Linked DNA regions of Homo sapiens. The protein of the gene in region 1 binds, or shares a complex with, the protein of each later gene. Each region holds a gene or a part of one and is shown on either strand. Other genes may lie near its edges. A codon is read from its position in the direction of its gene.

What was found.
Region 2: the proteins of NRROS (region 1) and TGFB1 are in contact, whole or in part, in a cryo-EM structure (PDB 7Y1R), measured with the Homo sapiens proteins. Residues at the interface, in NP_940967.1 of Homo sapiens: Phe194 (codon at 3,290), Glu195 (codon at 3,287), Ile196 (codon at 3,284), Glu197 (codon at 3,281), Gly198 (codon at 3,278), Gly199 (codon at 3,275), Phe201 (codon at 3,269), Leu210 (codon at 3,242), Leu212 (codon at 3,236), Pro218 (codon at 3,218), Cys219 (codon at 3,215), Ile220 (codon at 3,212), Val221 (codon at 3,209), Asp222 (codon at 3,206), Phe223 (codon at 3,203), Gly224 (codon at 3,200), Leu225 (codon at 3,197); in NP_000651.3 of Homo sapiens: Leu30 (codon at 2,688), Ser31 (codon at 2,685), Thr32 (codon at 2,682), Cys33 (codon at 2,679), Thr35 (codon at 2,673).

Annotation. Positions count from the first base shown.
Region 1 is NC_000003.12:196,656,185-196,663,512, reverse strand, and holds the end of NRROS (transforming growth factor beta activator LRRC33 precursor), read right to left. Parts: intron 3,762-7,328; coding exon 1,791-3,761; 3' UTR 1,509-1,790; downstream 1-1,508. UniProt on the Homo sapiens protein: Key regulator of transforming growth factor beta-1 (TGFB1) specifically required for microglia function in the nervous system.
Region 2 is NC_000019.10:41,350,270-41,358,921, forward strand, and holds the start of TGFB1 (transforming growth factor beta-1 proprotein preproprotein), read right to left. Parts: upstream 3,654-8,652; 5' UTR 2,776-3,653; coding exon 2,421-2,775; intron 1-2,420. Other genes in the region: B9D2 (B9 domain-containing protein 2), read right to left, coding at 4,431-4,744, 7,628-7,753. UniProt on the Homo sapiens protein: Transforming growth factor beta-1 proprotein: Precursor of the Latency-associated peptide (LAP) and Transforming growth factor beta-1 (TGF-beta-1) chains, which constitute the regulatory and active subunit of TGF-beta-1, respectively.

The DNA.
Region 1 (7,328 bases):
AACAGCAGGACCCCAGAGAAGGGTTTTGTTGATGGGGAGAGGAAATCAGGAGAGTCTGGTCTGATGTTGCGTTGGCTGATGGGACTTGCCCGGAAGGCTTCAAGGCAACCTGAGAGACATCCACGACACTAGGCTGGGCGCAGTGCAGGAGGGAACGGTGGGGTCATAGCAAGGGCAAAGCCCAACAGGACCTGCCGCTAACGCTACTGAATGTGGGGCCTGAGATGGCAAAGCCTAACAGGACCTGCCGCTAACGCTACTGAATGTGGGGCCTGAGATGGCCTTGTTCAAACCTCTGTAGAGCATCCAAGGGAAGTTTCTGCTGTGTCAGAGTAAGACCACTGATTTTATCTCTTTGATTTGCCTAAATATTTCTGCTGACAGTTAGTCTGCATGGTAATAGCTATCAGTTTGTGGGATTTCTAGCCTCTCTCCCTCCCCATCCCTCCCCCATTGCGTTTAATTCCTTTATGATTTAGTAAGCAGGGATTAAAAACTTTGAGGACAGTGTAAATTCTAAACTACCAGAGGACGGGGGCTGTGTCCTTGTTATCTTTTCTCTCAGAGAGGAGCACAGACATTGTTCGTTAGTCATTGAACAGAGGGAGAAGGGAAGCTAAGAATCTAGTGAATACAGATACTGAACATCTGCTATGAAGTTGTAAGCAATTTTTTGTGAAGAGTTAGGAGGGTTCACAAGTGAGCAGAATTCATTCCTTTCTGCATTCCTCTTTACTTCCCTTCAGAACGAGGACTGTCTCTGGCAGTCGGCTTACTGACTGGATAAACTCGGGGCCAGTTATTATTCTCTTGGTTTCTCCATGGAAGAGTCATGTCTGTCTGCCAGAGACTCCGGGTATGAAGCCAGGGCACCTGGAGAGGGCCCAGCTAGAGGTCCATTATTTTATTTATTTGTTTATTTTTTGAGACGGGGTCTTGCTCCATCGCCCAGGCTGGGGTGCAGTGGTGTGATCTCGGTTCACTGCAACCTCCGCCTCCTGGGTTCAAGCAATTCTCCTGTCTCAGCCTCCCAAGTAGCTGGGATTACAGGCGCCCGCCACCACACCCGGCTAATTTCTGTATTTTTAGTAGAGACGGGGTTTCACCATGTTCGCCAAGCTGGTCTCGAACTCCTGACCTCAGGTGACCCGCCTCAGCCTCCCAAAGTGCTAGGATCACAGGACCGTTCTGACGGCGGTGGCCAGTCACGCAGCAGGTGAGAGGCCTCATCTTATGATCTTATGTCAGACCCTCCAGCTGTGCTTTGAAATGCTTTGTTGTCGTCGTCCTGCTATGAAATCCTTGTGTCGTCGTCCTGCTATGAAATCCTTGTCCCTGTTGAGTCCCCAGGGCACTGACTCACCATCTCTAGCACCTGCTCTTGGAGTTCTTTTTCCAGTAGGTTGCATTGAATTGCTACCCTCGGCTCCATGGATGTCACCAAGGGGAGGACACTACAAAATAATCCAAGGGAAACCAAGGAACAATAAAAAAAAACACAAGCTGCATTTAATTTAAAAAATATTTATGAGACACGTTGCCTTTTATTTCTGAAAAAGTCACTTAATAAATATTTTACCAAGATAATGAGGATGAATTATAATGATGGAAAAAGAACTTGGGCGGTGGTGGGGGCGGGGGTGGGGTGGGCGATGAGGAATGGAAACATATTAAATTTTAATTGAAACTTCAATTCGTCAGACTTGGCCTCTGCATCACATCTTGAAAGCTGGCAGAGAAAGTGTCCTGTTGTGTGCGGACCGAATTTCGAGTCTTGGCACACAGCCAGGTCAGTAAACGGAGGACCAGTGGCAGCGGCTCTTGATGACCTGAAGCAGAGGCTTCTTAAAAGTGAGGACGATGACAGTGCAGGCCACCAGCAGGGTGAGGCAGCTGGGGAGGATGAGCACGAGGTAGAGCAGGCCCAGGTCCAGCCGCTCCCACTTGCAGTCCCGAGGCACACCTCCGGGCAGCTCCGTCACGCGGATGATCTTGGAGGAGAGGTTGCAGGTGACCATGGCCCAGTCGGCCACCGTCTGCCCATGCTGCAGGGCCCCCCAGCCATCCACCCCACAGCAGTCATATGGATTCTGACTGAGGTAGATGGTCCGCAGACCTCTCGAGAGCTGCTCAGACACAGCCTTCTGGGGAAGGGCTGTGAGCGAGTTTCTACGGAGATCCAGGGTCTCCAGGGCCAGGCTGCCCCCAAACCTTGGGAAGGTGGTCAAGCAATTCCCCGACAGATCTAAGTCCCTGAGATTCCCAAACCCAGAGAAGTCCAACGCCATAAAGCTGGAGTGGAGGCCCATGTTCCTGAGAGACAGGACCTGTAACATGGGGGCAACATCCTGGAGTGGGGCGAGGCTCCCATTCAGAACCCCCCAGTTGCTTGAGAGGTCTAAGTAGGTCAGGGAGGTCCCTTGGAATGGGCAGTCTGGCAATGCCCCCAGGCCACAGCCCTCCAGAGACAGGCTCCTTAAAGATGCCATATTCCTGAAATCCACACAGCTAGGGGGGCCCACCCGGTCCGAGGCAGCTGGCAGGGGACAAAGTGAGATCTGATTGTGGCTCATGTCAAGTGTAGTGATGTTCCTAGCATTGGCGAAGAGGCCAGGGGGGACGCCCAGGAGCTGGTTGGAGCTCAGGTTGAACAAGCGCAGGCTGCCCAGGCAGCTGGCCAGCCCCGGAGCCAGGTGCAGCTCCGACAGCTGGTTGTGGCTCAGGTCCAGCTCGGTGAGCGCTCCGGGGGGCTCGTGCTCCCGAATGTGAAGCGTCATCAGGCAATTCTGGTGGAGGTTCAGGTGGGAGAGGGAAGGCATTTTCCTCAGGAAGCCGTCTGGCAGGTACTGGAACTGGTTCTGGCTCATGTCCAGGAAGCGGAGATCTGCGAGGTCGCTGGAGGAGAATTCTTCCCAGAGGCTGACGGTGGTGATGTTGGTCACGTTGCCGTCCACGAGGAGGAACTGGGCCACCATCTCCCTCGGCGACGAGGTGTTGTACAGGTCCCGGTAGAAGCCCATGTTGTTGTCGCGCAGCAGGAGGGTCCGCAACTTGCTGTACTGGGGCAGCAGCGGGAAGAACAGCAGCTGGTTGTGAGACAGGTCCAGCGTCTCCAGCTCGAAGGCAGCCTCTCCCCCGGTCGCGAGGAACCACTCCAGGACGTTGTAGCTGACGTTGAGGACCCGCAGCCGCGTGAGCCCGAAGTCCACGATGCAGGGGAGGTTGTTGAAGGCCAGGTTGAGGTGCCTCAGCTCAGCCAGGCCGTCGAAAGCGCCGCCCTCGATCTCGAAGATGTAGTTCCTCTGCAGATCCAGCTCCCGGAGACGCTCCAGGCCCTCGAAGACGGAGTCGTCCAGCCGCATGATGGTGTTCCCCGCCAGGGACACGGACCGCAGCGAGGAGAGGTTCTGGAGCATGAGGGCTGCCATGTCCTCCGTCAGGGCGTTTCCTGACAAGTCCAGCCTCCGCAGGCCCGGCAGGGCGTGGAGGGCGGCTGCCGTCTCTTCGTAGTTCTCTGAGAGGCAGTTGTCCCCCAGGACCAGGCTGCGCAGGTGACCTTGCTCCTGGAAGGCGCCGCGGCTGATGCGCTCCAGGTGGCAGCTGTGCAGGCTGAGGCTCTCCAGGAGAGGGTAAGGCTGGAGGGAGTGATTCCACAGGGTCTTGAGAGGGTTGGCATCCAGGGTGAGCATCCGGGCGTGGGGCGGGAGGCTGCTGGGCACCGAAGCGAGGCTCTGCCCTCGGCAGTCAGCGGCTCCACCCACCTGCGGCCAAAACCACACCGGTCAGCAGCGAGGAGGCCCAGAGGCAAGCATTTATGCATAGAAACTTAGTTCACTTATCAGACTGTCCCTGCAACCGCCGGGGATGGCTCTAGAGATGTTCATTTTAAAAATAGGATAGACAAGGCCGGGCACGGTGGTTCATGCCTGTAATCCCAGCACTTTGGGAGGCCGAGGCAGGTGGATCACTTGAGGTCAGGAGTTCAAAACCAGCCTGGCCAACATGGTGAGGTCCTGTCTCTACAGGAAATACAAAAAACTAGCCGGGTGTGGTGGTGGACACCTGTAATCCCAGCTACTCCGGAGGCTGAGGCAGAGAATTGCTTGAACCCAGGAGGCAGAGATTGCAGTGAGCCGAGACTGCACCACTGCACCACTGCACTCCAGCCTGGGCGACAGAGCAAGACTCCATCTCAAAAAAAAAAAAAAAAAAAAAAGGACTTGAGAGCTTTCACCATCCTGAATTGTACAGGGAAGTAAAGTGGGTCTGGAGGGGAGAAGTGAAGAGCCAGTGGCTGTGCCGGGACTGGAGCCCAGGGCTCTGAATGCCCAGTTCAGTGCTTTTCCTAAACAGGGCTCTACTCTGATCATGCAGAATAAGGAGGCGGGAGGGACGAGGCCACCCTGGTCGCACTGCAGAAAGCACACGTGCAGGATACTTTAATTCACCCCACGCTTTGCAAAATTGGCAAAAACAACCATCAGCCATAGGATGTTATTTAGGTGTCTAGGACAAAAATGGTTTTTTTGTTTTTTGTTTTTTTGAGATGAAGTCTTACCCTGTCACCCAGGCTGGAGTGCAATGGTGTGATCTCAGCTCACTGCAATCTCTGCCTCCTGGGTTCGAGCAATTCTCCTGTTTCAGCCTCCCGAGTAGCTGGGATTACAGGCACATGCCACCACGCCCAGCTAACTTTTTTTGTATTTTTAGTAGAGACGGGGTTTCACCATGTTGACCAGGCTGGTCTCGAACTCCTGACTTCAGGTGATCTGCCTGCCTCGGCCTCCCAAAAGTGCTGGGATTACAGGCGTGAGCCACCGTGCCCGGCCAGAAAGAAGTTTTAAGTGATAAGATAGAGGAGCAATGGCATTCGTTTGCACAAGTTTATCAGTAATACAAGGGCAGTGGTTGCCTACAATTGTGGGTTCAATCCCAGAGGGCAAGTGCAGCACGGCAACAGAAGAGGAAAATCCCGAGAGAGAGGTTAGAAGAAGCACAGGTTTGGAGGACAGACTCAATCTGAATCTCGGCTCTACCACCACTAGCAGTGGAATTTCTTGGCCCCTCGGGTTCTTTATCTGATAATTAAAATAAAACCTTCCAATAATTAAACATTGATACTGTATTGACATATGGAAACCTCAACTCTTCTGTCACCTCCGCCTCTCTCTCAGAGAAACACCAGTCACCTTCTGTTCCATGTCTTTCTGGATCTTTCGTAAGATATTACCTACCTTTGTCTAAAAAACAAAAATAAGACCATACTGTGCAAACTGTTCAGTAACCTATTTTTCTCCCCCTGTCAATAAAGTATGACGGACTTATTGCCTTGGCAGTACAAATAAATGTGATCATAATCTTTTTAGGAAGCATATGCATTCATCTCATGAATAGCACAGTGGCTGAGAGCAAGAGTTCCAGGGCCAATGCTTCGTGGCTCTGCTTTTGATCAAATGGGTGACCTTTGGATGGTTACGGAACCGAAAGAGACCTCCATTACCCTGCCTGTAAAACCGAAATTATACTCGTCATTTTCGCATAGCGTTTTTTTTCAGGATCAAGTGTGACTGTTGAGGTGAAACACATTTACTGTGCTTAATAAATGTGAGCTATAATTATTAGGATGATCTAATTAATCATCTCCTATTGTTGAGCATTTGGGTTTCTCTAATTTCCAGACGAACGTTAGAAAGGATTTGCCAAGTTCTTTCCACATCCCCCTTCCCTCTTTGGTATTTTGATTGGGATTGCATTATAATTACAAAGTACTCTGGAAGAGAATTTTTATCTTTTTTTTTTTTTTTTGAGACAGAGTCTCACTCTTGTCGTCCAGGCTGGAGTGCAATGGCGCCATCTCTGCTTGCTGCAACCTCTGCCTGCCGGGTTCAAGCGATTCTGCTGCCTTAGCCTCCCACGTAGCTGGGATTACAGACTCACACCACCACACCGGGCTAATTTTGTATTTTTAGTAGAGGCAGAGTTTTGCCATGTTGGCCACCCTGACCTCGGGTGATCCACCTGCCTTGGCCTCCCCAAGTGCTGGGATTACAGGTGTGAGCCACCGCGCCCGGCCAGGTGTGTGTCTTTATGTGAGTGGGTGTTGCGCTCCTCCCTGCGTGTGGACTCACTGGAGAATGTTGTGGTCAGGGGCTTTCTTCACGCTATGGGGTGCTGTTCCACCACAGCTGCTGCAGTCGTGGGTCACACCTCTGCAATTCCCTGTGGCCCCGCTGAAGTGATGTAGAAGGACCATATGGCCATCCCAGAAAAGCTTACCATGTCCACTTTCTTTTTCTTTTTTTTTTTTTTGATACGGAGTCTTGCTCTGTCGCCCAGGCTGGAGTGCAGTGGCGCGATCTCAGCTCACTGCAACCTCGGCCTCCCTGGTTCAAGCGATTCGCCTGCCTCAGCCTCCTGAGTAGCTGAGATCACAGGTGCCCGTCACCATGCCTGGCTAATTTTTGTATTTTTAGTAGAGACGGGCTTTCACCATGTTGGTCAGGCTGGTCTCAAACTCCTGACCTCAGGTGATCTGCCTGCTTCGGCCTCCCAAAGTGCTGAGATTACAGGCGGGAGCCACCGCACCTGGCCAACGTCCACTTTCTAATAAGGTCAAATGGATAATGTGATGAGGGCCAGTGGAGGGCACCCAGACTCTCCAATTCTCAGTCCTCAACTCGGAAGAGCCACAGGAAACCCACTCTTTGGGCTTCCTGGCAGCCAATTCTCTACTCCTGCCCACTGGGCCAGAAAGTGTCAAGCAGAGGGCCTTGCCTGAACTCTGAAAGGCTGTTCATTTATCTCTCCTCTTCCTGTGCCTGGTAACCCCTGAATAACTACTGTGTAGTTAATCCTTTATTGCCTCTGTAAGAGAATGCTGGAGGTCAAACATAGCAGAGATTAATAATAATATGAGTGATAACGGATAAAACGCGTAGCACTGACTACCTACCAGGCACTGTCCTGAGTGCTTTACATGTATTAACCCATTTAATCATCAGTCAACACAGCATGATGTTATTGGTAGATATTATTATTACGTATATATTCTACAGATGGAGAAACTATGACCTAGAGTGACCCCAATGTCACCAGCTAAGGGTGGGGCTGGGTTTAAACCAGGCCAGTCTAGCTTGTAACCTCTATGTCATATTGGAATAGACTCTAGCACAGTGGTTATAGGTTCCTACTAAAAGAGGTTAAAAACCATGACAGCTATGCTTTAAGAATACATACTTGAATGTAAGTGTTAGCCCTGACATCCAATTTGTCTTCCCAACGCCTAGTATATAATATGGCTCAAGAAATGTTTATTAAATATGTGTTTC
Region 2 (8,652 bases), on another chromosome or scaffold:
TGTAGTGGGGAGAAAAGGAATTAAGGTGTTTTCTTTTCTTTTTTTTTTTTTTTTTTTGAGATGGAGTTTCTGTCGCCCAGGCTGGAGTGCAGTGGCGCGATCTTGGCTCATAGCAACCTCTGCCTCCCAGGTTCAAGCGATTCTCCTGCCTCAGCCTCCCAAGTAGCTGGGATTACAGGCGCCGCCCGCCACCCCGCCCAGCTAATTTTTGTATTTTTAGTAGAGACCGGGTTTCACCATGTTGGCCAGGCTGGTCTCCAACTCCTGACCTCAGGTGGTCCACCCACCTTGGCCTCCCAAAGTGCTGGGATTACAGGCGTGAGCCACCGCGCCCAGCCAAGGTATTTTCTAGTTTAGGAAAAGTTTGGGGATGGGGATGAGGGAACAGGCCATGAACTGCTGGATCAACTGGGGCAACTGCTTCCAGCCTCCCATAGTGGGGGTGTGAAAAGAGACTGGTGAGAAAGGCAGAGGAAACCCCTCCCCTACGGCCCCCTTCGATCCTCCTCCTCCTCCCCAGTCTCCCTCCCCACCCAGCCCCAGTAAGCCCTATTCTTGGCCCGGAGGTTACTCAGCAAACCCCAAAGGAAAGGCAGAGCCTTGGCTGGGGAAGACAGATAGGGAGGAAGACAGAGAGGAGGGAGAGGAAGGGTTGGAGGGTGATGCAGAGAGGGAGAGGCGGGGAGATGTCAGAGACGGAGACGAGGCAACAGGACCGTGGAGGAGAAAAATAGAAAGGGAGAGAAAATAGTCGGAGAGACAAAAACCAGGAGACCCATGCGTGGACAGAAAGACTAACGGAGACGAAAAGAAAGAGGCAGATGGGGAGACACGTGCGAGACGAGACACATGTGCATTTGTTGGGGAGAAGAGGATTGGAGGTGTCAGTGTTAAAGGAACCTCTACAACGAAGGTGAAGCCACGGAAGATAAGGTAAGGCTGAGACTTGGGTGCGGAGTGCGCGTCATTGGGCTGGAGCTGTAAACTGGCGCAGAAATGGGCAGGGAACCCGCAAGCCCACACCGCCCAAGAGTCAGTGAAACCTGAGGGATCTTCCCCAAGGCTCTGAACCACGCGGGACGCCTGGGTCCTCGCATGGATGCCGACGGGGCCGGCTGAGTGGGAGCCCCGCCCGTAGCTGGGGTGAGGAGGGCGGGAGGCGCCGCAGCCAGGAGGGCGGGGACCAGACCTGCCCCGTCTCGCCCCGGGCTCCGCGAGCGATCCCCGCCTCCGCCGGGGGCATGGGAAGGAAAGGGAAGGGAGGGGGATGAGGCCGCCGGACGCTGGGGTTTCCCCAGCCACCCTGAGAGGAACTGGGACTTTGGGGTCCAGACTGCCAGCGTTTAGCGCAGCGGGGTCCTCCTGCCCCTTGGTGGAAGCGCAGGCTCCTCCCCCCGCGCGTGGCACCCACGTGGGGCTTTCTCACTCCTCCCAGCTTGGTTTTCTCACCTCGGTCTTGTAGAGTCACCCCCCACCCAGCACTTCCCCTGCGGCTGGACTCCGCTCAGCCCATTCCCCTGCATCCTGCGGGGAATGCAGCGTGGATGGCGCTGGGTATCTCTCCTCCTCCCCGCTCACACCACCTTTCCCACGCCTGTCTCCCCTCTCGGTAAAGCCCTTCCCATGACCCAGGACTCTAGGTCTTCTGGAAGCTCGATTCCTCCGCTGGGCTCCCCACTCTGTCCCTCACGTCCCTGTGTGAAACACCGAGGACACCTCTGCATCCCGGGCGCCCTCCCGAGTCTCCGCTCCTCTCCCGCTTGCCTCCTCCTTCCAATAACCTCCCGTCCCTTTCTCCCCACATTTATCACACGCACCTCTGTTTCTCTTTCTACGACTCTCCCCCACCCCCGCATCCCGCGTGTTCCTGGCAGCCTCTGGAAGTGGGTCCGCTCTCACTTTCCTGGCACCCTCTGGGGTTGCCTTCATCTAGCTTTTCTGTCCTTCTTGAATCTTTCCACCTCAGGACCCCCAAGCTCTGGGTCAACTTTCTCCAGCGCCTCTCCTTTCCCAAATGCTGGGGTCTTCGCTTCTCCCACACCAGGCTCCCTTCTCTGCACCTGGCACCCCACGACCCCCCCCCCCATTCAACGCGTCCTGGAAGAGGGAGCCTTCTACCCTCCCCCTATTGCTTGTCTCCCTCTAGGGGACTGCCCCCACGACCCCGCATGTTTCTGTCGCACTCTAGAAGCGGTCCACTTCGCTATCTCCTCCTCTCCAAGACCAGACACCTGGGTGGTAGGGGGCTCAGTGCCATCCTCTTTCGGACACCCCCCTCCCACCATCACACGTTCCCTTTGCCCCGGGGTGTCCTCTTCCTCCAGCCAGTTTCTTCTGCCAGTCACTTCCTACCCGTGGCCCCGGCACTCCGGCGCCCCCTGGGGGCCCCCCTCCCGGCTCCCCTGCCCCTCCGAGCTCACCGTTGTGGGTTTCCACCATTAGCACGCGGGTGACCTCCTTGGCGTAGTAGTCGGCCTCAGGCTCGGGCTCCGGTTCTGCACTCTCCCCGGCCACCCGGTCGCGGGTGCTGTTGTACAGGGCGAGCACGGCCTCGGGCAGCGGGCCGGGCGGCACCTCCCCCTGGCTCGGGGGGCTGGCGAGCCGCAGCTTGGACAGGATCTGGCCGCGGATGGCCTCGATGCGCTTCCGCTTCACCAGCTCCATGTCGATAGTCTTGCAGGTGGATAGTCCCGCGGCCGGCCGGCCAGGCGTCAGCACCAGTAGCCACAGCAGCGGTAGCAGCAGCGGCAGCAGCCGCAGCCCGGAGGGCGGCATGGGGGAGGCGGCGCCCCCCGGCACTGCCGAGAGCGCGAACAGGGCTGGTGTGGTGGGGAGGCCCCGCCCCTGCAGGGGCTGGGGGTCTCCCGGCAAAAGGTAGGAGGGCCTCGAGGGAAAGCTGAGGTCCTCAGGGAGAAGGGCGCAGTGGTGGAGGGGAGGCTTGGACCGGGGGTGTCTCAGTATCCCACGGAAATAACCTAGATGGGCGCGATCTGGTACCAGAAGGTGGGTGGTCTTGAATAGGGGATCTGTGGCAGGTCGGAGAGAGATCCGTCTCCTGGAGGAGAAAGGGTCTAGGATGCGCGGGGGCTCAGGAGACAGGCCGGGGATGAAGGCGGCGTGCAGGGGGTGCGCCCGAGGTCTGGGGAAAAGTCTTTGCGGGAGGCCGGGTCGGCGACTCCCGAGGGCTGGTCCGGAATGGGGGCGCCTGAGGGACGCCGTGTAGGGGGCAGGGAGGGAGCAAGCGTCCCCGGCGGCAAAGGGAGGCGGTCTGGGGTCCCCAAGTCCTGCCTCCTCGCGGGGCAGCGTCGCGCCAAGAGGTCCCCGCGCCTCCGGCTCCCAGCGGCAACGGAAAAGTCTCAAAAGTTTTTTTCCTCTTCTCCCGACCAGCTCGTCCCTCCTCCCGCTCCTCCTCCCCCTCCTCCCCGCAGTGGCGGGGGCGGCGGCGGCTCGTCTCAGACTCTGGGGCCTCAGGCTGCTCCTCGGCGACTCCTTCCTCCGCTCCGGGCCGAGGCCGGCCCCGCGGGCGGCTCAGAGCCGGGGGGGTGCCCCGGACGGGGCGTCCCCCCTGCCCCCGGCCGGGGCCCTCGCTGTCTGGCTGCTCCGCGGAGGGAGGTGGGAGGGAGATGGCCCAGGGCGCGAAGGGCGGCGGCGGCGGGGACCGGCTGGGTCGGCAGGGGGTTTTGAAGCCGCCCCCGGCCCCACCCAGGAAGCGCACGGGGCGGGAGCGGGGGCGGCCCCCAGGGGGAGGGCATGGGGGGGCTGGGCCACCGTCCTCATCTCGCGTGGGCGGGCTCCGAGGGGGGTCCCTTCAGCCCTGGGGGAAAGGGGGCGGGCACCCCGGCTCCGCCCCGCAAACAGGGTGCTGCCTCCTGGCGGCCAAGCGCCACCAAAGCGGGTGATCCAGATGCGCTGTGGCTTTGCGGGCGGTGTGGGTCACCAGAGAAAGAGGACCAGGCGGAGAAGGCTTAATCCGGGGGATGAGACACAGGGGAGCCGACCAGAGGAGGGGGACCCAGAACGGAAGGAGAGTCAGGCTGGGAAACAAGGTAGGAGAAGAGGGTCTGTCAACATGGGGGCCTCCGGAGGGTGTCAGTGGGAGGAGGGGGCAACAGGACACCTGAAGGATGGAAGGGTCAGGAGGCAGACACCTGTAAGAATTGCTCTCCTTTACTGAGCACCTCCCATGTGGCTAAGCAGCCTCCTGTCACTCAACACCCTGCGACCCCATACATTTACTGTCCCCAATTTACAGATAGGGAAACTGGGCCCAGAGGGACCCCGAGGTCCTAGAAAGGACAGAAGCGGTGCCATGCCTTAGCTGGGGTCAGCTCTGACAGTCTCTAGAGTCTGTGCTCTTGACCACTGTGCCATCCTCCCCCATCACTGGGTGTCCGGGGTGTGGATGGTGGTGACGTTGGAGGCAGAGTCCCTCAGCACTCCACGCCGTAGCGGTCGAAGTTGCGGAGCAGCAGGCCGATCTCCAGGTGCACGGTGCCACCAGCAGCTGTGTGCAGGCGATAGCGGTCGGCCCCACTGTAGATGGTGTCCCCATGCAGCAGCTGCGGCCCACCACCCACGAAAGCCCGTGCCAACTGTTCTCGCCAACTGCCCAGGGGCCGCCACGTGGGGCAGGCCAGCTGGTGGGTGCCCGGGCTACTGGGCACATGGCAAAATCCATAGCCTGCAAGCTGGCAGCGGCCAAAGCTGTCCTGGGACCACACCTGGAAATGGAGCCGGGGCCAGCCTGCAGGAAAGGAGAGAGAGGGGAAAGGAGGGATGGGTGGGGACCAGACTCCTGCTGATTCCCCACTCCCTGATACTCACTGGAGACCCCAGGCCCAGTCTTTTCCTCTCTGGGTTTCTGTCCCAGAGTTTCCAACCCAGCCTCCTTTCTAGGCTCCCACCGTCTTATCTATCCCCACACAGCAGCCAAAGTGATCTTTCCAAATCCATGTTACTCCCCTGCTAAGGATCCTTCCATAGCTCCCCAGTGCCCTCAGTATAAAGTCCAACCTCTTCAACATTCAAGGCCCTTCTAATCAGACCTCTGCTGAATTTCCTCTCTGTGTTATCCTCCTCCATGACCCCATGTCAGGGCAGCCCATTGCTCCTCCAGTCCCCAGGTAACCATCATGGGCCTTGTCAGGGACACCTCCTGCCTTCCCTCATGTCCCTGCCCTGCTCTCTTTGGGCCCAGGGCCTTCTTTCTTGCCCCTCTCTAATCCACCTTCCACCTGGCATCTGGAAGCATCTTTCTCTCCTTCCATAGCTTTGCCCATGTCCTCAGAACACAGTTCAGCTCCTCAGTCTGGTAGTCAAAGCCCTTGGAGATCCAGCCCCATCTCATCTCATGCTGATCCCTTCTCCTGTGCTAGACTCTGTTCTAGCTAGCTGGGGACACGGCAGACATGAACATGGATGGCAGACAAAAATTCCTGCCCCCGTGAAGCTGATATCCTAGACAACGAATGTAGTAAATAAGCAAATTATAGGGTAGATCAGATGGTGGTAATTGCTGTGAGGGAAAACAGAGCTGGGTAGGGTGAGGGTGGGGATACCGCTTTAGCAAGAAGGGGATCAAGGAAGCTTCATTAAGAAGGTGACATTTGAGCAAATGCTAAAAGGAAGGAAGGGAGTAGGCCATGTGGCCATCTAGAGGAAGAGTGCTCCTAGCCAGAGGGAACAGCAAGTGCCAAGGCCCTGGGGGGGGACTGTCTGGTGGGGACAGTATGGCTGGAGCCCAGACGGAGTGTGCCTGGTGGGGACAGCATGGCTAGAGCAGAATGAGGTGGGGAGACGGGAAGGAGGTGCCAGCCTGGTTGTGGAGAGCCTTGTGATGCATGCTAAGACTATGGCTTTCACCCTGAGTGAGATGGGGACCATTGGAGGGTTCTGAGCAGAGCAGAGATGGGACCTGACTTAGGTGTTCACAGGGTCCCAGCTGCATGTGGGGTGCAGACCAGGGGGGTTGGGGAAGGGGACTCCAGAGACAAGATTCTTGTCATAGTCCATGTGAGAGAAGAACTTGGACAGATCAAGGTGCTGGGCGAGAAAAGGGTAAGAAGTGGGATTTAGGATGTATTTCAAAAGTAGAGGCAGTTTAAGATTTCCTGATGGACAAAATGGGGGCTTGAGAAAAGAGAAAGCAAGGCTGGTGCCACCACTGGGGGACTGGAGGCCCCAAGAGCTGAAAGGTTAGAGCTGCCCACCTCACCCACACAGCACCGGAAAGATTTTTTTTTTCCCCAGCTCCAGCTTAAAAGACAGAAAGATTATTTAAAAGTGAAATCTCAGCCAGGCGCGGTGGCTCATGCCTGTAATCCCAGCACTTTGGGAGGCCGAGGCAGGTGGATCACCTGAGGTCAGGAGTTCGAGACCAGCCTGACCACCTTGGTGAAACGCCATCTCTATTAAAAAAAAAAAAGGCAAAAATTAGCCAGATGTGGTGGCACGTGGCTGTAGTCCCAGCTACTCGTGAGGCTGAGGCAGGAGAATTGCTTGAACCTGGGAGGCAGAGGTTGCAGTGAGCTGAGATCTTGCCACTACACTCCAGCCTGGGCAACAGAGTGAAACTCTGTCTCCAAAAAAAAAAAGGTGAAATCTCACTTGTCCATTACCTGCTCTGGCTCCCAAGTGCCTTCAGGAGATGGCCTCAGCTCCTCAGCCTGGCACTCAAGGCCCTGCATGGCCTGTCCCCTTCTGCCTTTCCCCTCTGCCGTCCCGCTCTCCCTCAATCCACTAGATGCCCTTGGCTCACTTTCCCCTTTGAGTCTTCCACGTAGCTCCCTCTGCCTAGAACCTTCTTCTATCCCTCTGCCTTATTAGCTCCGCTGGCCCTTCACAGCAAAGTTCAGAAGCCCCCTCCTCCAGGAAGCCCTCTCTGACCTCCCTGACAGAGTCAGCCACTTCCTCTGGGCTCCCACAGCCTCTCCAAATCACCTATCTTAGTCCTGCCCACTCTGAGGTGCCACTGTCTGGAGAGAGGTGTGTCCCCCCATAGGACGGTGAACCCTGTGAGGACAAGGCTAAGGGACACTGCCTTGATCCTCAATGTCTCCCTGGCATCACCCAACACAGGCTGGACACAGGGCAGGTACCAGGTAGACGTTCTTTATATTGGTGAAATATATGGCACATTTACCTAGGCAATTTCTCAGAATCAACTCATCTCCAGGAACCCACATTTTCTACTAGAAAGGCTTTCTGATGCCGCTCCTCCCCCAGTACTGATTTCCCCTTTGAGCAGCAGCTCTACTTTCAAGCCGAGGAGCCCTTCCTGGAGAAACAGCCCTTGCCTCTCTCAGACCCTGCCTCCCGGCTTCCTCTTTATTGGAGACTCTCGTTTTGTCTCTTTACTTGAATGCCACCTCCCCTCCCACCCTGACCCCCCACCTTCCCACCTCCTGCTCCACCCTGGCCTCTGCCCTAATCATACAAACTTGGGATCGCCTATTGAGCAGGCCTGGGAAGGCCTTAGCTCAGCCTCTCCAGGGCCAGACTTGGCTGCAAAAGGGACCTACGTGGTATGGGGAGCAGGGACAGGTCTTGGTGTTCCCAGCCCCAGGGACCTCAGAGGCTACTGGCCCCCTCCCCTCAGCCTGGACCCGGGTCCAGGTGTGATACCCACCTTGAAGACCTTTGGTGGCGAAGTGCAGGTCGATGGGGTGGGACCAGTAAGCCATGTCCCCTATCTGCGGGGTGTCCACTTGCGTTTGGCCCTCCCGCACGCCTGACAGGAGCTTCCATGCCGCCCCTGCAGTGAGAGCCGGGACATAGAGGGGTGGGAGGCAGCCATCGGGAAGGGGATGCCGCTGTGGCTATAGGACTGTTTCTCTGTGGCATCTACTGGTAGGGGTTACGAAGCATGGACTCTGGAACCAAGTATCTGGGTTCAAATCCTGGCACTACCTCTTCCTGCCTCTGCAACCTTGGGCAAGTTAGCTTTCTCTGCCTTGGTCTCCCCATCTATAAAATGAGCTGAGTAATAATGCATTCCTCATTGTCTTCATTTGTTTTCTGTTACTCTTAACATAATATCCAAAACTGGATAATTTATAAAGAAAAGGAATTTCTATCTCACAGTTATAGGAGACTGACCAAGGTGGAGGAGCCCCATCTAGTAAGAGCCTTCTTGCTGGAACTCTTCAGAGAGTCCCAAGGCTAGTGTGCTAACATGCCACTCACGTCTCTCTCTCTCATTTTATAAAGCCACCACTTCCTCTCCCATGATAACCCACTAATCCATTAACCCATTAATCCATGAATGGGTAATGAGCATAGTGAGCACGGGATAAGTCTTCAATATCATTTTATTACGATTCTCACCCCATATTTTCAAGCCTAGTCCAAGGATTAAGATGGGGCCAAGGGTACCCTCCAGGAGCGCATCCTGAAACACACATAACAATTTCGATCCTACTGAGGGGTGATAATGATAGCTAAAATGCACTGAGTGGTAGGATACAGTGGCTCACACCTGTAATCTCAGCACTTTGGGAGGCCAAGGCAGGTAGATCCCTTGAGTCCAGGAGTTCAAGACCAGCCTGACCAACATGGCAAAACCCCATCTCTACAAATAATATAAAAATTAAGGCTGAGCGCAGTGGCTCACACCTCTAATCCCAGCACTTTAGGAGGCTTAGGGGGGGGTGG